Linked DNA regions of Homo sapiens. The protein of the gene in region 1 purifies or fractionates together with the protein of each later gene. This does not show direct contact. Each region holds a gene or a part of one and is shown on either strand. Other genes may lie near its edges. The genes, in order: SLC35F5, TMEM230, ATP13A3, ABCB10, ATP2C1, KDSR and ATP2B1.

Region 1 (3,500 bases):
AAATTAGCTGGGCATGGTGGTGCATGCCTGTAATCCCAGCTACTCAGGAGGCTGAGGCAGGAGAATCACTTGAACCCAGGAGGCAGAGGTTGCAGTGAGCTGAGATCGTGCCATTGCACTCCAGGCTGGGCTACAGAGCAAGACTCTGTCAAGAAAGAGAAAAAAAGAAGAAAGAGAAGAAAGAAAGAGGGAAAGAAAAGGAAAGAAAAAGAGAGAGAAAGAAAAAGAAAGAAAGAAAGAAAGAAAGAAAGAAAGAAAGAAAGAAAGAAAGAAAGAAAGAAAGAAAAAGAAAGGAAGAAAGGAAGGAAGGAAGAAAGAAAGAAAGAAAGGAGAAAGAATCTTATTACCCAAAAGATCTAAACCAATTATTTTATTTTCATCTGCCGTAACATATAAGTTATCATCTTTCAATAATTCCTCACAAAATCTCTAAAAGCTAGGCCAGCATGATGCAATTCTCAGTTATCTAGCAAACACTATTTTTAAAAATGTGTATTGGGACTAAACTTACCTCTGAATTCGATGTTTTCTGCATATAAAAGCAAATATTCTTCTGATTCCCACCATCACAGGATCCCAATTATTATAATGGCATAGGAGAGTTACAATAAAAAATGAAAAAAATACAGGGATAGCTCCTGCAAAAAATAACCAAGAAAACTGCACCTAAAAATAAAAGATAGAGGAAAAAACACACCCACAATTATCATTAAGGCAATTTTCCCCTTCAATGTAAGTTTTCTATTTGTGAAAACTAGCAGGAATAAGAACAATGGGAAGACAAAATTAAACACTGACAATGTATTAAGTGTATTATTATTAAATAAGAATTCAAGACTTCAACTTACTATTCCATGCACCTAAATTACCAACAACAATAGTTCTTGCTTGGAAAATAGGCTAAAGGAAAGCCAAGAAAGCATACTTTCCATTTATAGGCATTGTACACTTAGAGTAGAGATATACAGTAGGAAACTTTGCTCCTGCACACCATGTTGCTCATTTCTTCTTCACTGTTTGCTGCCTAGTCTCAAGTGGGTCTCTCTCCCTCAGTTTCTGAAGTCATCTTCAAAAAATGTATATTTTCGTAAAAAGTTACAGTTGTAGTATGCTGTGTATGCTACAGTCCTTATGACAGTACCAAAAACAAATTAAGTGCAAATTTGACACTCAAAACTCGCTTATCTAGTAATAAATGAAAAAAGCTCAAAATGAAATAATGACCAAATAAAATAAAGAAAAAAATATAGAAATATTTTTACTAAGGAATGTTAGCCAGAGAAGACAAGCAACAAGACAAGCCTCATCAGTGATGTCAACAAGTCTGATCCTCCAATCCATCATTTATCAGAGTTGTCAAGAAAATAAAAAATATCTGTAAGTAGGGTGGAGGTATTAAAATCAAAAAGAAAAAAAAATAAGAAAAACAAATATATAAATAAAAAGAAAATAAAAAATAATGAGATGCCATCCAAAACAAAACTCATTCTTCCCTTTCACTAGTTCACTTTTACCATCTAGACTCAGCTAAAGATCAGAAACGATTGTCAAAGAAGCCTACACTGATCAACCACTGAGACTTAAGTGTAACACACAGGAGGTTTGCTTTAAAAATAATGATGAAAATAGTAACTTCTATCTATAAAATAGGAAAGGAAAACTGTGTTTGCCCTCTTTGAGAATTAAAAAAAAAAAAAAAAGGGCATGGAATCATAGGTAAGACTCCCTCTGGTGGAAAACATATACTATTCCATTTCATAGCACCATTAGTCAGAGTAAACGAGTTTTGTGAGCATAATGTCTTTTATGAGGGAACTCACAATGCATAACACAAGAATAATAACTGACAATTTTTAACATGCATGCCCTATTTCTATGGTATTCATATACAATGACTGAGTCAGCCTAAGAAGACCCCGGAAAGAATAGTCATTAAACTGAAAAGCCTTCATTTAGTTATGAAATTACCAATATATTTTAACATATTCCTGGAATATTTGCCAGAATGACTAATAATCAGGAAAAACCATGCTGCATTTAAATTATCCAAGATCAGAAAAGGTATTAAGAAGTTATAAATAATGCGATTAAAAATGTAGATATAGTTGATAGAATTATTTCATGAATATTCAACTAAAAACCTTATTTCATAACTGAATCAAAGCAAACTTAATAAAGATAGATAAAGCCCTAGAAGACTTTAGAAGGCAAGTTCACTTTCCACAATGTAGCTGTTTATATGTTGTCTCATAATAAAAAACTTCTAATTTGATTTCCAACAAGCTAAGACAAAAGAAACGAAGCCATTTATTACAACAAAGAAAATTACCTATGTAAACAAAATTTTTTTTTCTAATTCCTAAATATATCTGAATATCAAATAGAATATGATCAAGGATGCTTTCTATTATATAAAATGATTATAAATAGATTTAAATAACCAATTTGTTTCAAGCACAATGTTAATAAATGCTAACATTTCAGAAGCTATATATAAATACAGTTAGCTAATTAAACCTAAAAACCCTATAAAAGTAGATTTCTCTTATGTTTGTGTTACAGTTCTGGACACACACTGCTGCTTTTTCCAGATGGAATCTCCCTAACCTCAATCCTGACACCAACACACAGCCTGCTCCTTTAACTGACTGCCCAGTTCTAGATATGAAGACAATCAAGAACACCAAATCTTTTCTTGATTGTCTTCATATCCAGAACTGGGCAATCAGTTAAAGTTTGGTTATGTTTTTATAATTAATTGCATGTGCATACATTTCCCCGTTTTGTCTTTACCCTAAAATACTTTATTAAACAAATTATAACCATTATTGTTTGTAATGATAATTATGAAATGACTAATCATTTAATACAATTAGGTCCCCTGTGACTATTTTCTTAAAAATTCCTGAACATTAAGCTGCAATTTTTTTCAATCTACGAAAGCTTTTGTTTTTAAAATATCAGTACAATAAAGATGATTTACACAGTAGTCTACCAAAATCCTCTAACAAGTAGCACCTTCCCAGTTTCACAACCAGTTTGGTTCATATTCAGGATTATGACCTGAAGATGAAGAAGGGCCTAGATATTACTTAAATCTATAAAAGAATGATGTGTAATAATGTGCAATGTTAGTGTTATATGGAATATCCACATTCTTTGAAAATGCAAGTTATGTAAGATAATTAATTCTCAATTAAGGAAAGAATCTCAGTTCTTTAACCATGACAAATAAGAATTTACTGACCATAAAACAAAGTTAAATATCAGTAAAGAATTATTTTATAAATAAAGAGGATATAGAGCACTAAGCATATTTTGCTTTTATCTTTTTTTTTTTTTTTTTTTTTGAGATGGAGTCTTGTTCTGTTGCCCAGGCTGGAGCGCAGTGGCATGATCTTGGCTCACTGCAACCTCCGCCTCCCGGGTTCAAGTGATTCTCCTGCCTCAGCCTCCCAAGTAGCTGGGATTACAGGTGCACGCCATCACACCCAGCTAAT
Region 2 (3,500 bases), on another chromosome or scaffold:
TGGTATTTTTAGTAGAGACAGGGTTTCACCTTGTTGACCTGGCTGGGCTTGAACTCCTGACCTCAGGTGATCCGCCCGCCTCGGCCTCCCAAAGTGCTGGCATTACAGGCGTGAGCCACCGCGCCCGGCCTAATTTTTATGATTTTAGAGACGGAGTCTTGCTCTATCACCCAGGCTGGAGTGCAGTGGTGCAATTACAGCTCATTGCAGCCTCGAACTCCTGGGCTCAAGCAATTCTCTTGCCTCATCCTCTCAAGTAGCTGGGACTACAAGTATACGTCACCATGCCCAGCTAATTTTTAAATTTTTCTGTAGAGACGAGGTCTCACTATGTTGCCCAGGGTGGTCTCCAACTCCTGGGCTCAAGGGAGTCCTTCCACCTCTGCCTCCCAAAGTGCTGGGATTACAGGTATAAGCCATCAAGCCCAGTCTCAAACACTTTAAAACAGGGAGGAGAGCTCGCACCTGTAATCCCAGCAATGTGGGAGGCTGAGGCAGGCGGATCACTTGAGTTCAGGAGTTTGAGACCAGCCTGAGCAACATGGTGAAACCTCGTCTCTACAAAAAATACAAAAATTAGCCGGGCGTGGTGGCATGTGCCTGCAGTCCCGGCTACTTGGGACGCTAAGCTGGGAGGATGGCTTGAGCCCAGGAGGTGAAGAGGCAGCGAGCTGAGATTGCACCACTGCACTCCAGCCTGGGTGACAGAGCCAGAGCCTGTTTCAAATACAACAACAGCAAAAACAGGAGGGTAATTAAGAACCAAACTAGATACTTTATGTGTCTTAAGTATGTCCTACCACCCAGTGCAGCTCTGAGAAATAAAAGGGACTGGCAAGAGATGAAGCTCTAGTTATTGCTCTCACAGTTACTCAAAGGAATCTCAGAGGAATGTCATTCACTCTAGTTCGAATCTCATTCCATAAATCATTCATTGTATCATAAGAAACTTTTCTTTAAAACAAAAACAGAAATGACTTTACAGTCATTCATTTGTTAGATATATATTTATTAACTGCCTGGCACATAGATGGCTGTACTAACTTATGGGGATTTAAGAGATCCTGTCTCTACAAAAAATTTTAAAATTAGCTGGGTGTGGTGGCACATGCTTGTGGTCCCAGCTATTCAGGAGGCTGAGGTGAAAAGACTACTTGAGCCCAGAAGGTCAAGGTTACAGTGAGTCTTGATTGTGCCACTGTACCCAAGCCTGGGCAAAAGAGCAAGACCCTGTCTCAAAAAAAAAAAAAAAAGGCTGGGCGCGGTGACTCACGCCTGTAATTCCAGCGCTTTGGGAGGCCGAAGTGGGTGAATCACTGGAGGTTAAGAGTTCGAGACCAGCCTGGCCAACATGGCGAAACCCCATCTATACTAAAAATACGAAAATTGGCCAGGCATGGTGGTGCATGCCTGTAATCCCCCAGCTACTAGGGAGGCTGAGGTACAAGAATCACTTGAACCAGGAGGGGGAGGTTGCAGTGAGCCAGGATTGCACCACTGCAGTCCAGCCTGGGCAACAGAGCAAGACTACATCTTAAAAACAAAACAAAACAAAACAAGAGGCTGGGCAAGGTGGCTCACGCCTATAATCCCAGCACTTTGCGAGGCCGAGGCAGGATGATCACCTGAGGTCAGGAGTTCAAGACCAGCCTGACCAACATGGAGAAACACTGTCTCTACTAAAAATACAAAATTAGCTGGGCGTGGTGGCGCATGCCCGTAATCCCAGCTACTTGGGAGGCTGAGGCAGGAGAATCGCTTGAACCTGGGAGGCAGAGGTTGCAGTGAGCCGAGGTTGTGCCACTGCACTCCAGCCTGGGAAACAAGACTAAAACTCCGTCTCCAAAAAAAAAAAAAAAAAAGGAAAAGAAGGCAATTTCAGCTTATTCCAAATGATTAGTTGTTTGTTCCACATAGCAAGTAAACCTGCCTTATGAACAAATTCAATTCAAGGTTAAGATTCAGAGACAAATTTTCCAAGGTTTGGCTCATCGTTGTATCTGACCTAAGTGGCTGGAAGCTTCCCAGATCTTTCCAGATCTATTTTTATCTCTCCTTCAAATGTGGGTCCAAAGAGTAATTTATTTATTTATAAAGGATGGTTTCCTGCTACTTCCTCGTTGGCCCTAGTTCCACGTAGAACATTCTATTGTAAGGGGAAGTGTGCAAAAGGAGATGCTGTAGTATTGACTAGTTTATAAATGGTTAGGGTAGGATACAAACTTAATAAATACTGTGTTTTACTTACTATTTATCACAAAGAATACCTTTAATAAATTGGATCTCATGACATCAGGAAAGAAGGAAGATTCCCACAATCTGCTGGCTTTAGTAATAAGTTTCTCCCTTAAAAGGTGAACGGGCTTTGACTAAAGTGTAAATAAACAGTGATAAAAAAAATTCCACCTAACAAAAATTTTAAAGTTCCTTAAAAAAAGAAACAACAACAAAAAACTCCACTTAACAAAACACAATCTGATTAGTTTCTGAATAAAGTAAATAAAACCTGTAACTACAAGGCTCTCGCATTACAACTAAAAATTCTTAGAAATGGACAATACTGGAATTGGTTTGAAACTACCCTGCCACGGCCCTCTTCTGCGATTATGGCTGAAAGGGTCTCAGAGCTGAGTTTTCTTCTTGTTGCTCCTTCTAATCCCCAAGGACAGTTAGCAAAATCTCCATCTGGAAGGTCTTCCTGCTAACTTAACAGAAACACAGCCAGTCAGTCTTGTCAGTTCTCTTCTGCATTTACCTGAAGGTCAATGTAGCCATCGTCTGTGCTGGAGAGCCTTGAATATTTCACTTTACTACTGGGGATTCCAGTAGCCAGGTTGGTACGGGACGGCATCATAACACGCTGACACAGCTACAGTTTAAAAACAAAAAACCCGTTATTGTCTGTAGATGACAATGGTGCATTATAGCCAATGAGTTCAGGATTATTAGATGCTGTGCACTGGAGTTCTGGGCTGCCATGTCAGACTAGCAATGGGCAATTTACACTTCACTGCTAAATTTTCATTGTGTCAGAGGCATATGCATATGGAAAACCAGATATGCCTCTGACACAGTGAAAAGATTCTCACTATGTATTAAATATCTAGTCTGGTCTGTCCTTGTAGAATGACAGTGAAGACACTCACCAAGAATCACATTCCAGTTTATTTTGCCACCAAGATTCCCTGACTTTTAATTTTTCCAAAGTCACATAGAGACTAGGTAGAATAATGGGGACTTAAATCTAGGTCCACCTGACACCACAGCATTGCCTGTCCCCTGCTCCCGCTCTTAAGAAAAAGCAAGAGGAGCATATACTCAAATGATTCTCTTGTTTGACAGGGAGGGAGAAGAGGGCAGAGAATGGAATACACTCACATCAGCATTTTGCCTATTTCCCCTTGATAGAGATCAACCTTTTAATGCAAAAGATCTGTAAAGTTTCTTGCCGTAAATTTGTGGGGTTTTTTTGTTGTTGTTGTTTGTTTGTATTTTTTGGA
Region 3 (3,500 bases), on another chromosome or scaffold:
ACCATAGAAAAGGTGTTTTATTACCCCCATTATAGATGAGAAAACTGAAGCAGGGTGGTTAAGTGACTTGTCCCAGGTTACACCGTCCATAAGTAGCAGAGCAAGGATTGAAACACAGGAGGTCAGTTAAAGCCTGTATGACACCGTTGATTACCACTGGGGCTCTTAGCCAAGCAAAGTCAGAACTTCTCCAGAGGGGAGCTCAAAGAAAATTCTGTTAAGAATGAGTCCATAATTTAAAGATGCGCTAGCAAACAATTCACCAAGAGTGTCAACAGACATAACAAAGACAGAATTAGAATCCTATAAATTTGGCCAGGGGCAGTGGCTGATGCCTGTCATCCCGGCATTTTGGGAGGCTGAGGCAGGAGGATCATTTGAGGCCAGGAGTTCAAAACCAGCCTGGGAAATATAGCGAGACACCCATACCAATTCCTATGTTTAAAATAAAAAAATAAAGAATCCCGTAAATTTAAGATAACAGAATGGCAAATCTGAAAGAATGCAAAAAGGGCATTTTAAAATTAGACATACAAAGAGTAAGACACTGTAGATGCGAGAGTAGGGGTGGGAGCAGACTTGGAAAGAACCAAGTAAACCATGTGTTGTCCAACACATGGTTAGGATTCCCAGAAGGAGAGAAAACAAAACACAAGGAAAAGGCCATAATGGAAGTAAAAAAGGCCTGAAAATTTTCCAGAATTTATGAAAAACATGAAAGCATGAAATCAAGAAGCATCATGAATCCTGTACACACAAATAAAAAGATCACAGTGAATCTGCAGAAATTAAGGGTGAAGAAATATTCTTCAAGCAACCAGAGAAAAAAAAGATTACTAAAAAGACTAAGATTTATCAGTACCAATTAACAAAAGGTATTAAGAGAAATGAAATAACAGCTTCATAGTATTGAGAGAACACAAATGTCAAACCTAGAAATCTGTATAGTTACACTACCACCCAAGTGACAGTGGGCTGCTCTGCCTATGAAGGAACCATTCTTTATTCCTTTACTTTCTTAAATTTGCTTTCACTTAAAAAAAAAAAAAAGAGTGACAGTGAAACAAAGCAAATGAATGTAGTTACAGAAGATGGCAATTTACACAAGATGCAATGGTTAAGGCATTAGTACACCTAGGTAAATCTAAGCATGCAGACTGTATAAGACCAAAATAATAATCAGAAAATATTATGCAACAAATACATATAGGAAGGGAGGAGAATAACCAAAAGTATCTTACAGTCCATAGGTTTGTTTTGGGGGGCAGGGGAGTGGTTAAAAGGCAGTATTAACATCCATGAACTTTAAGTATAAATATTGATAATGTAAGAACAAGCAGTATAAGATTGGGATGCATAAAGTGAGAAAATGAGAGAAAAAATGAGAATGTGAAAATGTGTATGTAAATTGGGGGAGCAATGGTAGAAATAATTTCTAATATATCTGAATAAATGTGCACATCATGGCACAGAAAGACTGAAAAGTAAACAAGTGGCAAAACACACACTAGGCAAACATCAGGCAAAAGAAAGCTGGTATAGAGCTATATAATTATAAGACAAAACAGAATTTAAGGCAACATGCATTACTAGAGATAAGAAAGGTCACAACGTGACATACTATTTTCCAAGACACAACAACTCTTGAAATTACATTGGCCAAACAATACTGTCTCTCAAGCTATATACACCAAAATTTAGCAGACTTTTGACAGGGGGAGGGGGGAAGACACAAACAAAACTACAGGAGTAAAACTTCTGAGCTTCAAAAAGCAACAGAAACAAAAGTAAAGAGATGAGCCAGAGACTAATAGGATAATTTTCAATACACAATATTGAAAAAGATTCCTATCCAGAAAATAAAAAAGACCTCTAACAAATAAGATAGACTTCCCAACAGAAAAATGAGGATATAAACACACAATACACAGAAGAATGCTAAATGACCCTCCCTCCAAAATGTGAAAAGATGCTCAATTTTATAAGAAATGAGAAGAATGTAAAAACCACAATGTAATACTCATATCCATCCATCTGGCAAAAATTACAAGTCTGACAATATTAAGTTTGGCAAGAATGTGGAGTAAAAAGATCTTTACCCACTGAGAGAGAAAGCATAAAGCTGAAGCCGTGCCCATGCTACGGCCCAGCCTTTCCATTTACAGGGATCTAGCTTACTGAAACTCAGCCACATGCCTACAAGGACTTATGTGTAAGAACTTTAATTCCAGCACTATTTGCAACAGTGCAGAGAAAAAAGAAGAAAAAACAGAATTGTCCCTTAGTAGAAGAACAGACAAGGTTTAATCATTCAATGGAATAAGACAGAGCAGTTAAAATTAATAAACTAGATCTGCACATATCAACATGGATAAATCTTGAAAACAAAGTTTGGAGAGGGGAAAAAAGCAGCAAAACATATGTACAGTATATCATTCATGGATACTTATTTATAGATTTATACTTAGAAAAAATATAAAATATGCAAAAATAATTTCAGAATGGCAGTAGGAATTGGGGAAGGGATACAGTGGGACTTTGGCAACTTCTATAATATTTTAATATTCTAAAGGAAGCGATCTGAAGCAAATATGGCAACATGTCCACGGTTTAATCCTGGTATAGGTACACAGTTGTCTATTACTTCCTTTATGTTTGAATGTTGCACATGTTAAAATATTAAAAATAAACTAATAAACTATCAAGTCTAACTAATATTTACCGTGCATTTTCCACTCGTTGAATCCCCCAAAGATCTAAACCATCTTCAGTTAGAGTTCCAGTCTAAAAAACAAAAAAGCACACATGCACAAAGTATGGATGATGCCTCAAAAAAAAACCCAAAAATAAAAATAAAAAGCAACCACACAGCATTAGAAACTATGCTACATATAACATAATGGAGTTCTACAGAGTTAAAAAAAGAAACAGGCAAGATCCCTGACAGAGAATGGCTTCCAGGACATATGGTTAAAGTGGGAGAGGGGGTGCAAACAATGATCACAAATCTTCTGCGTAAGGGCAGAGAGGGGTATATATTTACGTGCTTATACTATCAAAAAAAAAATCAATGGAAGGATGCACCAGTTAACCTATCTTATCAATCAATAAAGGATGCCTATAAAGCAAAAAAGGAAGGATTACTGTATAAGGAGGGCCAAGAGGAACAGGTTAAAGTACATCAGGAGGAAGCAACTGGCCAAATCCACAAGGTAAATGACCTGGTTTCTTCAACAAAATAACTGGAGATAAGGGGTAAGTAAAGGCAATTGTTACATGTTAATTGTAAGCAATGTAATCCCTATTTGGATTCTGACTGAAAAATCAACTAGTAAAAATTAGAGATATGAGGAAATCTCAACTGGATATTAGAAAAACTAAAGAATTGCTAATTCTGTTAAATGTGATAGTGATATTTTAAATATCCTCTAGACACATACTAAGGTAGTTATGAGTGAAATAATGTCTGATGCTGTCCCCTTCAAAATGAGCAGATAGAT
Region 4 (2,313 bases), on another chromosome or scaffold:
TTCGGCATCCAGCGCACTGACACAGGAGCACACACACAAGAAAGCAAAGACGTCAGTGACACCCATGTGCTTCCTGATACACACAGCAGCCCTTCCTGAGCAATGAATTTTTACCATGATCAAAATTTCAACTGTTTAGGACTTTCTGATCTCCATAAAACTATACTGTGATGTAAGGAGAAAAGCATTCTGCACAGTTACAGCTTACAGAGTGATTAGGATTGATGGCAACCATGTCTGAAGTGGACCTAGAACTCTCAACTAGGACTCAGTCTGCCCACTGGTTTTCAACTGTCATTATTAATTCAGCTTCCCTCACTTTAGAGTAAAGGGGGGAAAAAGGATTTTCAGTTGTATCACTTTGAGGTACAGAATTAAAAGTGTTTTGGTGAAGGAAGAATTTGGTTTAATACACACAATGGCATATATTATTAAGATATCCTCACCTGGTTGCTTCATCTAGGAGAAGAATTTTGGGATTCTGAAGAAGGAAAAAAAAGGAAAAGATAAAATAATTTTATTGGAAAAATACAAACTCTCAGCAATAAAAAAGGAATAAAATTCTGACACATGCTACAATGTGGATGAGCCTTGGAAACTTATGCTAAGTGAAAGAAGCCAGACACAAAGAATCACATACTGTATGAGTTCACTTATATGAAATGTCCACAACAGGCACTTCTACAGATGGTGGATATCTGGGGCTGGGTTCAATGCAGGAAATAAGGAAGGGGAGTTGCATGGCTGCTAAAGAGTAGAGGGTCCCTGGGGGGGTGATGAAAATGTTTTCTAAAATTGTGATGATGGATGCACAACACAGAATACACTAAAAACCAATGAATTTATTTTTTAAATGGGCAAATTATGTAGTATGTGAATTATATCTCAAAGCTGTTACAAAAAAACCCCACAAATTACTAAGTGTCTGGGATAAGTACATAAATGAAAGAATTAGAGACTATTTTAAATGATCATCAGAGTAATCACTAGACCAGGTATCGTTCATAGCACAGTTTTATCCTGCCATCAGAGTAATCACTAGACCGGGTATCCTTTATAGCACAGTTTTATCCTGCTGGTCAGTGAGATGAGAATCTAAAATGAGTAAGATGGCCGGACGTGGTGGCTCACGACTGTAATCCCGGCAATTTGGGAGGCCGAGGCAGGTGGATCACCTGAGGTCAGGAGTTTGGGACTAGCCTGGCCAACATGGCAAAACCCCGTCTCTACTAAAAATACAAAAAAATTAGCTGGCCTGGTGGCACATGCCTGTAATCCCAGCTACTCTGGATGCTGAGGCAGGAGAATCGCTTGAACTCGGGAAGTGGAGGCTGCAGTGAGCCAAGCTCACACCACTGCACTCCAGCCTGGGCGACAGAGTGAGACTCTGTCTCAGAAAATAAATAAATAAAGTAAGTAAGTAAGTAAATAAATAAATAAAATGAGTAAGGCTGAGTACGGTGGCTCACACCTGTAATCCCAACACTCTGGCAGGCTGAGGGGGGAGGACTGCTTGAGCCCAGGAGTTCAAGACCAGCCTGGGCAAAATAGCAAGACCCCATCTCTACCAAAAAAATTTTTTTTTAAATTAGCTGGGTTTGGTATGGTATGCACCTATAGTCCTAGCTCCCTGGGAGGCTGAGACAGGTAGATTACTGAAGCCCAGGAGGTCAAGGCTACAAGTGAGCCATGATCACACCACTGCACTCCAGCCTGGGTGACAGAATGAGACCGTCACAAATTTAAAAATAAAATTAAATTAAAATTAAAAAGATATGTCTATAACTTTCAAGGTCCTGCTTATAGTTAATTTAGAAATAATAAACTAACTTTGGGAGGCCAAGGTGGGTGGATCACTTGAGGTCAGGAGTTCAAGACCAGCCTGGCGAACATGGTGAAACCCCACCTCTACTAAAAATACAAAAATCAGCCGGGTGTGGTGGCGTGCATCTGTGATCCCAGCTACTTGGGAGGCTGAGGCATGAGTATCACTTGCAACCTGGGAGGCAGAGTTTGCAATGCGCTGAGATCGACCACTGCACTCCAGCCTGGGTGATACAGCGAGACTCTGTCTCAAAAAAAAGAAAAAAAGAAAAAAGAAAAGCTAACACATGAGACCAAAAAAAAAAAAAAGAGACTAATCTGATGTAGATAAAACATTACAAGTCCAGCTTTGCAAATGAAAACACACACCCTCACAAAAAGGTAGCTACTATTCTTTATATATTATTCACAATAGCCCCAAACTGGAAATGACCCAAGCGTTTATCAGCTGGTGAACAGATCAACAAATAGGGATCCATCCATACTACT
Region 5 (3,500 bases), on another chromosome or scaffold:
AGCTTACCTCCCACAAATGCCCCATCCTCATTGTGACCAATGGCACATGTTTATAAGAAGGCTGTGTCTGGGGCTGCAATCTGTGGCTACAAAATTAAGCAAAGCTAAAAACCCATAATCTTTGCCTACTTATTAGAAAGCACTCTACTCAAGTGAGTCAATCAAGTCAATCAACTAAGTTCACCTAAACATACCTGGGATCTGGAACTTAGTGCATTGAACATGTCAAAAAACACAAAGCATGTGAAGGTCATTGTTGTGTCTCGAGGTGTAATCACATTGTCTCGTAGCTGTCAAGAGGCAATAACAAAATTACTTTTCAGTGGCTGAATTTAATGGATAAATCGCTGCTTTTTAAAAAATATAAACATTTTCTTTCCATTAGGAAGAAATAACTTTAGCCTAACACATGAAACATAAAAGCTACCTAAATTTCCTATAAATCACCTAGTGAATAGCTGTAATCTACATAATAAAAAGTAAAAAAAAAACTTCTCATGAACTATGTATTAGATATTAAAATACTGTTATTATTTAAAAATAATAAAGTGGCTCTATGATTTTAAGACTCAGATTTTCCAACTTCTCTCTAAATTTTCATGTATTTTTATTGTAACTGATACTTCTCTGCAGATTTATTCTAATACATGAATCAATAATTTTATTTATCCATAAAGATGGAAATCAAACTCTTTTAAAATGTTCTTATATTTTTCACTAAAAGAGCTCCCTTAACTTCCCAGCCTTCTGGGTAACCCATCAAAATAACTAAGAATCCTATCAGATATACAGAATTCATGTTAATATAGCAGCTTGGCCAGTGAATATACCTCACGCCAGAAGACAAACAAAGTCCCACAAACAATGATTATTGATGAAACAAGTATTTTAAGTATCAAGTTTTTAGTCAAAATGCTGTCTTTCCAGTTGCGAGGAGGTTTACGAATGACATCTTTATCCACTGGTTCTACTCCAAGGCTTAAAAACAAACAGAAAAATAAATTACTTTCAAGTTTTAAGGTCTGGATTTGTTACTTTCACAACCTCACTAACCTCAATTATTCGGCAAACTAAATGCTTTCTTATAGAAACAAAATGTTGCATCATAAAACGCTGGCTGATTACGCAAAAATAACCACTGATTTTGTCACTTTTTCTCTCCTCTTTATTTGTTTGGCACAATTTGATAGGGGATAGATAATCAACTTTCAAAAAACCATCCAATTCATTTACATGTAAGTTTACCTATTTCAAATACGGTGTGAAATACATGACCTACCGACTGAATTTTGAAATATCTTTCATATAAAGAGGTTTTAACTGGGATGATTTGCTGGAGTGGCCAAATGACATCTATCACTCAACTACCCCATTATTATTAAATTTTTTAAAAAAGTTATGACACTCAGGTCCTCTAATACTTTCCCAAAGTCTCTAAAACTGACAGTAGAACCTAGATAATAAAACTGAACCCAGAAATTTCTCCATTATACCCATTTCTTAGAAATAAAAGGCTTACTTACTTCCTGAGGACAGGGATAGCACCTATTCCTGATCTATTCTCAACCTTAGGCTAGGCATCTAACAGTGGAAAGGCTCAGATCTACACTGCATGCACACTCAAAAAGAATTAATAAAATACACACATCACACAATTTATAACATAAATGTTAAAACATTTGCTGCAAAGTTTTCCAACACTGTCCATAAATCAAGTTTTAAAACTTAATTATCAGGGTAGTACACATTCCTTGTCTTTCCAGCTCATGCAATTAAAAAACTCGTACCTCTGAGCTGGGGGTCCATCCATAATAATATTGATCCACAAAATCTGCATGGCATTGAGAGGATTAGGAAAGTTCATTAATGTAGCCAATGAGATTAAAGTTAATGCTGCTATACTCCTGTTGAAAAAGAGAGTCATTTAAAAATATCAGTAGAGTAAATCTGTTGATTCTATGATACCACTTTTTTAGCATTTAAAAATCTCTTACTACTATGCTTTTAAAGGAAGACTGTTTCAAGTAAACTATTCTTCAGTCACGTGGACATTTTAAAGCTAAGAGTATTTTAACAAAGGATTTTCAAGATGTTTAGACAACAGGAACAAATAAAGAATTTTTACATCTGCATGATAGTTTCAACAATATTTTGGTAACTGTTCTTTGACTACACAATACCCCTTCTACTTTTGGAAAAAGATACCAAGAGGAAACAATGAGATGTGAGCTATTAAATAAATCACAAAGATTTATACATTTTGATGATACAGACATCTAACTGTTACATTTACAACCTATTTATCATGCCATTTAAAATTTCAGAATACAATAAATTTTCTTTTTGGAAAACTGACATATGAACAATGCTCACAAATATAAGGCAGAGAAGTTTCTAGGCATTCTGCTTAAGTTCTACTTTTCATATAATTTATCCAGAAGACCCATGGTGACAAATTTCTTGCAAACTTACGTGCTCAGCTGGAATCTAACGAAATTTTTAATGTTATTATAAATCCCTTTACCCTCTTCGATTGCAGACCTGAAATTTAAAAAATAAAGATGAAGTGAGAAAATATTATCATACAAAAATGTATCTATACTAAAACACTGTAGAGCTAATTTTGAAAATAAATTTCCAACCGGGCACTGTGGCTCATGCCTGTAATCCCAGCACACTGGGAGGCCGAAACTGGCAGATCACCTGGGGTCACGAGTTCGGACCAGCCTGGCCACCATGGTGCAGCGAAACTCCGTCTCTACTAAAAATACAAAAATTAGCCGGGTGTGGTGGCGCATGCCTGTAATCCCAGCTACTCGGGAGGCTGAGGCAGGAGAATCGCTTAAACCCGGGAGGCGGAGGTTGCAGTGAGCCAAGATCACACCACTGCACTCCAGCCTTGGCAACAAAGTGAGACTGACTCAAACAAACAAACAAATAAATAAAATAAAATTCCAACTAATACAACACATGTATCAATATGGAAACATTTATTTTAGCAAAGAATTAAAGTCAAGCCTAAGCTCTACCTGAACTAATTTGTCACAATATTAAAATTCTTATTCTGAAGAAGATACTTCAACATTAAAATCATGCATTGTCTCTTCACACAAGAGAAAATACTTCACATTCATAATACATAAAATGATTATCTTTTTTTTTTTTTTTTGAGACAGGGTCTTGCCCTGCTTCCCAGGCTGGAGCGCAGTGGCACAACCTTGACTTACCTGCAGCCTCGACCTTCTTGGCTCAAGCAATCCTCCAGCTCAGCCTCTAGAGTAGCTGAGACCACAGGCTCACATCACCACTCCCAGCTATTTTTTTTGTATTGTTTGGAGAGATGGGTTTTGACATGTTGCCTAGGCTGGTTTCGAACTCCTGGGCTCAAGTGATCCATCCACCTCAGCCTCCCAAAGTGCTGGCATTACAGGCATGAGGTACCCTGCCCAGCCATGATTATCTTCTTCACCTTCCTCTAAGCTCATTTTTCTTAGTGGTAC
Region 6 (3,500 bases), on another chromosome or scaffold:
GTGGCGCAACAGAAACCGCATTCCTACTTATGGGAGCTTAACCACTTTGGTGAGGTTGAAGAACTGCATACACTACAGCTCTGCAATTCCATTTCTGGGTATGTACCATTCTTGCACACGTGCACAAAGAGAATACTGAAAGCTTTTCTAATAGTAAAAAACAAAACAAACTAACAAAAATACTGGGAACAAACTAAATATCCACCAATTGCTGAACTGATGAACAAAATGTAGTCTATACATACAATAGAATACTACGCAGCAGTAAAAAAAAAAAAATTTACTCCAACTTTTTGCAGCAACATAAATGAATTTTTAAAATTATATATATATATACACATATATATACATACATACATACATACATATATATATATATATATATATATTTTTTTTTGAGATGGAGTCTCCCTCTGTTACCCAGGCTGGAGTACAGCGGTGCAATCTCTGCTCACCTCAAGCTTTGCCTCCCAGATCCAAGTGATTCTCCTGCCTCAGCCTCCCTCCTGAGTAGCTGGGGTTACAGGTGCAGCTAACTTTTTATATTTTTAGTAGAGACAGGGTTTCACCACTTTGTCCAGGCTGATCTCAAACACCTACCTTCAACTGATTTGCCCGTCTCGGCCTCTCAAAATGTTGGGATTACAGGCATGAGCCACCGCACCTGGCCTAAAGAATAATATTGAGTGGTCTGGGAATGGTGGCTCACACCTGTAATCCCAGCACTTTCAGAGGCTGAGGCGGGCGGATCACGAGGTTGGGAGTTCGAGACCAGCCTGATCAACATGGTGAAACCCTGTCTCTACTAAAAATACAAAAATTAGCTGGGCGTAGTGACGCGCGCCTGTAATCCCAACTACCCAGGAAGCTGAGGCTTGAACCCAGGAGGCAGAGGTTGCAGTGAGCTGAGATTGTGCCACTGCACTCCAGACTGGGCAACAGAGCGAGACTCCATCTCAAAAATAAATAAATAAATAAGAAATAAATAATAATAATATTGAGTGAAGAAATCAAGTTGCATAAGAAGCATAAAGAAGGAAGTTATACAAATCTATAGAGAAAGAAAGTAGATGAGTGACTGCCTAGCTGAGAAGAGGCTGGGAGGAAATGGCAAGTGACTGCTAATACACATGGAGATTCTTCACGGGGTGAGGAAAACATTCTAAAATTGATTTTGATGACAGTTGCACAACTCTATGAATACATTAAAAATCATTGAATTATATATTTTAAATGGGTCAACTGTATGGTATATAAATTATATCTCATAAAGCTGTTAAAAAATAAGAATGATATAATAAAAGAAGTAGAACTAAGTATATTGGCCAGGCATGGTGGCTCACGCCCATAATCACAGGACTTTGGGAGGCCAAGGCAGGCAGATCACCTGAGGTCAGGAGTTTGAGACTAGCCTGACAAACATGGTAAAACCCTGTCTCTACTAAAAATACAAAAAAAATTAGCCGGGTGTGGTGGCACACACCTGTAATCCCAGCTACTCAGGAGGCTGAGGCAGGAGAATCGCTTGAACCCGAGAGGTGGAGGTTGCAGTGAGCCAAGATGGCACCACTGCACTCCAGCCTGGGTGACAGAGAGAGACTCTGTCTCAAAAAAAAAAAAAAAAAAGAACTAAACAATATATTATTATTTAGAGTTATGTGCATATATGGTAAAATTAAAAAGAAAAAGAGGCAGGGCACAGTGGCTCACTCCTATAATACCAGCACTTTGGGAGGCAGAGGTAGGCGGACTGCTTGAGCCCAGGAGTTGAAGACCAGCCTGGGCAACATGGCGAAACCCCATCTCTACCAAAAATACAAAAATTAGCCATGCATGATGGCACGTGTCTATAATCTCAGCTACTAGGGAGGCTGAGGTGGGAGGACTGCTTGAGCCCAGGAGGTCGAGGCTGCAGTGAGCTGAGATCGCACCCCTGCACTCCAGCCTGGATGACAGATTGAGACACTGCCTCAAAAAAAAAAAAAAAAAAAAAAAGGAAAGAAAAAAGAAAAGAAAAAGAAAGGATTAACACCAAAAATCGGGTTGGCATTTGCCCCTCTAGGAACAAGAAAAGAGGGACAAGGCTGCTGTGGGGGCTTCAGAGACCCTGATCATTTCTACTTCTTAGGCTGGGTGATGGGTGTGTGATTATTAATTTGCTATTATGTTTTATACTGAAATATAAATAGCATTTTATTCATCAAAAATTCCATAACCAAATAAATTTTAAATATTCCTTTCCTCTTAAGCATTTGTATAAAGTTCATTAAAAAAAAAATTAAAATGAAATTATTTGCCAGTAAAACATTCTGTTATTTGACCATTTGTAGATATGAATGTGTGTGGGAGTCTATTCATTTTGCGTGTGTGTGATATTCTGAGTTACTAGACCATTCAAACAATTCCACCTTTTAAAAAACAGTACATATATGCTTTCAATTAACTATTCACAGGTGAAGTAACTCTGTTTTTCCTTTATACAGCTGTGCTGAGTTATACAGAAAATGCATTCTGAAGACAGAGATTTACCTGTTTGTCATTAATAGAGTGCATTTCAATTTCTTTCTTTGCCTGCAGCAGCTTATCCTGAAAGCAATACAGAATAATTAGTCGTGATGACCGTCTATATGCATGTCCGTTTATTGCAAAGGAGAGAAAAAAAGCAATTATTTCTATATGTATGTATTAAATTCCAGAAAACACACAAAACAGTATCTACATTGCATAGACAGACTGGGCCACAGCCTATGAAAGAAAGAAGTTGTGAAGTATGTTAAGCTATGAATAAGTGATAAAAGTTTGAAAATTAATTAGAGAAAGATAGTAGAAAACAGATAAACCTCAAAATCCCAGTTAACAGTACTAATTGCTGAGGCTGACTCTACAGTTCTAATAAATGTCTTATTATTTAGTTGTGATATAAGACAAGAACAACTCTATTAATATGTACTGCTCCCCAAAGTTGAGGGTATGTGTGACTCCCTGTCAATACTGCTTTTTGTCCAATATTTTCTTCTTCTACTATAAACCCAAACATAGTAAGAATCACTTTCTGGATAGACTGGGTAAACTAGGCCTGGCTACTATAAAATACTCTTAAGCAAGGTTACCTGTGTAATTATGTAATTCTTCCAAGGTCCTAATTTTGTTTGTTTTACTTAGTCTCAAGAAAACAGATATCAGATTATCTTAATTTGCTGTAAAAAGTAACTTAAATAATATCATGCAATAGAGAGGAACCAAAGGAGAGGCGAATTCTTCCAAAAGGCATGCAGAGTTTCTAAACCTGAATATGTCTATAATGAAATAATATTGTCCTATGACTAAAGATACATACAGCTTGACTTTGCAAAGACTGGAATTAAAAATTACATTAGAAAAGAAAGAATTTCTCAGCCAGGCATGGTGGCTCACCCCTGTAATCCCAGCACTTTGGGAGGCCAAGGTGAGTGGATCACCCAAGCTCAGGAGTTTGAGACCAGCCTGGGCAACATGGTGAA
Region 7 (3,145 bases), on another chromosome or scaffold:
AATAATTTACTAATGATTTATACTAACTGAAAAATATGGTATTCATCATCATTTAAAGTTTACTCAGTATTTCAACAAAGTTGCTAGTTTATATTAATAACTTATTATAAAAAACAACTATGGATAATTTTATTAATTTTTACCATAGAGTTCAGATAACTGGTATTGACAAGTATGGATAATGAAATAAAAATAAGCTCTTACAGCTAATGTGAAAAACTAATCTGTACTAAAACCAGCAGATTACATTCCCATAGACTGCAGAAATGATCTATTGTGCTATAAGGGTTGAGGACAGTGGGTTGGAGAGTAGGGACAATGTACCCACTCTCATTTTAGAGGCAAGATCATGCATATTATTAGAAGAGTGATTCACTGTAACACAACCATAACATTTCAAGTACATTATAGAATTTTCAATTAGATTTCTAAAATTTCAAGTAGAAAAAATTCCAAAATATTTTCAAATCAATATCAATATCCAAAAAGTTCAGTCCCCATTCAGAAACAGATAAACAGTATATTTATTAAATGAGTTAAGACAAATAAACTTTACAAATAGACAAATAATAAAAGGCTCAGTGGCTAAAATAGATGGTAAGCATCATTGAAAGAAATCAACACCATCACGGTATCTCAGTTGGCTTACACGTGTAAAAAGAAATTTTCAAAGAGCAATTTCACAGAAATGAAGCCAGTTTTTTTCTTATAAACAAATCACCAATTCTTGGTTCAAAACTGACATCTGTTATGAAAATTACCATATCACATATTTGTAAGATGACAAGGAGTAACTCATCTTCAAAGTGCAAGTAAGTCTATTTACAACCACAAAAAAGGCAATGATGAGGAGAAAAGGATTTTTAAAAAATATACAAAGATTAAAAACATTTGGGATGCAAAATTAAACAATTTTTTGGTTAGAGGATAAAAGAGAAAAAGTGATTGAATTACAGATTTCAGCTATACATACTATATAATGGGATCCAAGATCTTTAACAGCTTGCTTGCATTTTTTTCTACCTACATAATGCTCTGGAAATTTCTGGTAGAAATTACAGTGTCTCAAAGAGAGAAATACACACTAAGCATGTCTTGCTACTACTTCATAGATGTCATAAGACCCGTTTATGGATTAGAGTTGGTGTAGAAAGCCATTGCCTTGAGTTGAAAAATGAATACTGTAAAAGCTCAATACAAATCCTCCAAAGCACATGCACTTCTAAATCTTTTGGTAATTACATTCATATTTAAGCATAACCAAAATAAAAAAGAAAACTGAAAACATTTCCCTTTTCTCTATTCCCTATGCCTTGTGGGCTCTCCAGTTGATAGGGTCAATTTTTAGAGTTGAAAGGGTTCTTCAAGATAGTCCACCACCCTTATTTAGGGTAAATGATTTTCCCAAGATCATGCAGCACATTAATGGCAAAACCAAGACTAGAAACCAGGTCTTGACTCCTAGTCTAATATGCTTTCCAGCATATCATGCTACCTCTTTTTTACAGTATGATTCACTATAAATACCTGATGAATAAATGTACAATTACAAATGCTGACAGAGCCAATGTGTTTCTAAGACCTGCAGAGGATTACTGCAAAGATTTGATGGTGAGAAAAAGATTTCCCCCACCCACCAAAAATATCAAGCACCATCAACTAAATGTTTCTTTGCTTGGTCAGCACTCTCAGTTATAGTAGCAGTCCTCGTAAACTTTATGTCAGCCTGAGGATTGTGTATCTGGTGAAATCTGGGCCCTAACACATGCCAGTTTCTAAAGGGTAAAGACAGAGGCAAAAAAGAGAAGAAGGTAGATGAAGGAAAGAAAAAGAGAGCTAAAGAATCCAATTGGCTTAGAGGTGGGCATTCTAGCATATGGTTAATTATTGCATCTAAATATATCATTTTAGAACCTTTTCATGTAATCTCATTTTACCTAATCTGTTATTTGGCCACTTAAGAATTAAAATAAATGTATCAAAGACAATGGTGGTCATTGTTGTTATGTTTTTTACCTGTGAGACTATTTTAGACAAACTAAATTCAATGAAGAGTATGTCAAATGGTAAAATTGTGTTAATTTTCTTAATCTGATTCTATTAGATTACCAGCAAGGAATTAAAGCGGTACTTCATGGGGCTGTTACCATCTTGAAATGTATTCCAATTGTGGTCAAAGAGAACAGACTGATGCACTGTATATGCAGAACTGAGTAAAGAAGCTGAAATGTCTTTTAAAAAAACATTGCCATGAATTTATTTAATAAAAGGGCATATTTATTTATGTTTACAAACAAGTTTCAAAAACAAAAGGAAAACATGTATGCTTCTACTTATTAACCTTTTTCAAAATGCCAACAGCCCTCATGCTGTGTGAAGGTCTCTAAAGATTAGAAAAATCAATACAGTTCACTCACAGTTCACCAAGACATCACTAAACTAACATGTTTAGACAAAAACAAAAAAGACTAAGGTTCTCTTGTAGTTTGATAGTCTGATTTAATTTGATTTGCCTGAAATAACAAAAGCATTTCAAGCATCTTTCATTATGTAGTTGATGTCCTGCATTAAACAATCTACTAAATTCTGAACAAAAGGTTATTAGCAAGTTTTCAAAAATTTTAAAAATTAAACAGTTGCTTCAAAACCATTAAGTAGTAAATGTATTTAAGAAACTAATTAGGACAGATGTCATAACTTCATTAGAACACCACTGCTCATGTTTTTTTGTTTTGTTTTGTTTTTTTCGTTTTTTTAAACAAAGCATTAGTGTTATCTATTTGGCTATTAGTATTAGCAATTTATCTACAATATTTAACAAGGTAAATTGTAGGCAAAAATTTAGTACAGTTTCAATAGAAACACCCCTTTTTTTTTTTTTCCTGAAAATACAGCAGTATTTGAAGGACTAATTTTTCTCTGCATCAGTTATAAGGAAGCTTCCCATCTATGAACAGGAACAAAAAAAGTATCTACAAACCTTGTAAACAGATCTGTATCATTTATAAACATAAATAATCCAAATTATTAACAGCCAACAGCAGAAATTAAACTATCAATTCAACGATCCAGGGCTCTTTGTCTTGCCCAGTTTTACTCCTCCCTCTCTCTCCCATCCAGGACTGAGATAAACTAAAGCTCTGCT

Evidence for each region.
Region 2: the proteins of SLC35F5 (region 1) and TMEM230 purify together in Homo sapiens (affinity purification with mass spectrometry; one large-scale study listed by BioGRID and IntAct). This does not show direct contact.
Region 3: the proteins of SLC35F5 (region 1) and ATP13A3 purify together in Homo sapiens (affinity purification with mass spectrometry; one large-scale study listed by BioGRID and IntAct). This does not show direct contact.
Region 4: the proteins of SLC35F5 (region 1) and ABCB10 purify together in Homo sapiens (affinity purification with mass spectrometry; one large-scale study listed by BioGRID and IntAct). This does not show direct contact.
Region 5: the proteins of SLC35F5 (region 1) and ATP2C1 purify together in Homo sapiens (affinity purification with mass spectrometry; one large-scale study listed by BioGRID and IntAct). This does not show direct contact.
Region 6: the proteins of SLC35F5 (region 1) and KDSR purify together in Homo sapiens (affinity purification with mass spectrometry; one large-scale study listed by BioGRID and IntAct). This does not show direct contact.
Region 7: the proteins of SLC35F5 (region 1) and ATP2B1 purify together in Homo sapiens (affinity purification with mass spectrometry; one large-scale study listed by BioGRID and IntAct). This does not show direct contact.

What each region holds. Positions count from the first base shown.
Region 1 is NC_000002.12:113,718,643-113,722,142, forward strand, and holds part of SLC35F5 (solute carrier family 35 member F5), read right to left. Parts: intron 2,727-3,500; exon of another isoform or gene 2,648-2,726; intron 667-2,647; coding exon 512-666; intron 1-511.
Region 2 is NC_000020.11:5,106,577-5,110,076, forward strand, and holds part of TMEM230 (transmembrane protein 230), read right to left. Parts: intron 2,870-3,500; coding exon of another isoform or gene 2,855-2,869; coding exon 2,756-2,854; intron 1-2,755.
Region 3 is NC_000003.12:194,442,003-194,445,502, forward strand, and holds part of ATP13A3 (polyamine-transporting ATPase 13A3), read right to left. Parts: intron 2,785-3,500; coding exon 2,723-2,784; intron 1-2,722. UniProt on the Homo sapiens protein: ATP-driven pump involved in endocytosis-dependent polyamine transport. Uses ATP as an energy source to transfer polyamine precursor putrescine from the endosomal compartment to the cytosol.
Region 4 is NC_000001.11:229,518,395-229,520,707, forward strand, and holds part of ABCB10 (ATP-binding cassette sub-family B member 10, mitochondrial), read right to left. Parts: intron 482-2,313; coding exon 447-481; intron 17-446; coding exon 1-16.
Region 5 is NC_000003.12:130,995,084-130,998,583, reverse strand, and holds part of ATP2C1 (calcium-transporting ATPase type 2C member 1), read right to left. Parts: intron 2,542-3,500; coding exon 2,473-2,541; intron 1,905-2,472; coding exon 1,788-1,904; intron 979-1,787; coding exon 831-978; intron 291-830; coding exon 195-290; intron 1-194. UniProt on the Homo sapiens protein: ATP-driven pump that supplies the Golgi apparatus with Ca(2+) and Mn(2+) ions, both essential cofactors for processing and trafficking of newly synthesized proteins in the secretory pathway.
Region 6 is NC_000018.10:63,357,207-63,360,706, forward strand, and holds part of KDSR (3-ketodihydrosphingosine reductase), read right to left. Parts: intron 2,587-3,500; coding exon 2,530-2,586; intron 1-2,529.
Region 7 is NC_000012.12:89,587,549-89,590,693, forward strand, and holds the end of ATP2B1 (plasma membrane calcium-transporting ATPase 1), read right to left. Parts: 3' UTR 501-3,145; downstream 1-500. UniProt on the Homo sapiens protein: Catalyzes the hydrolysis of ATP coupled with the transport of calcium from the cytoplasm to the extracellular space thereby maintaining intracellular calcium homeostasis.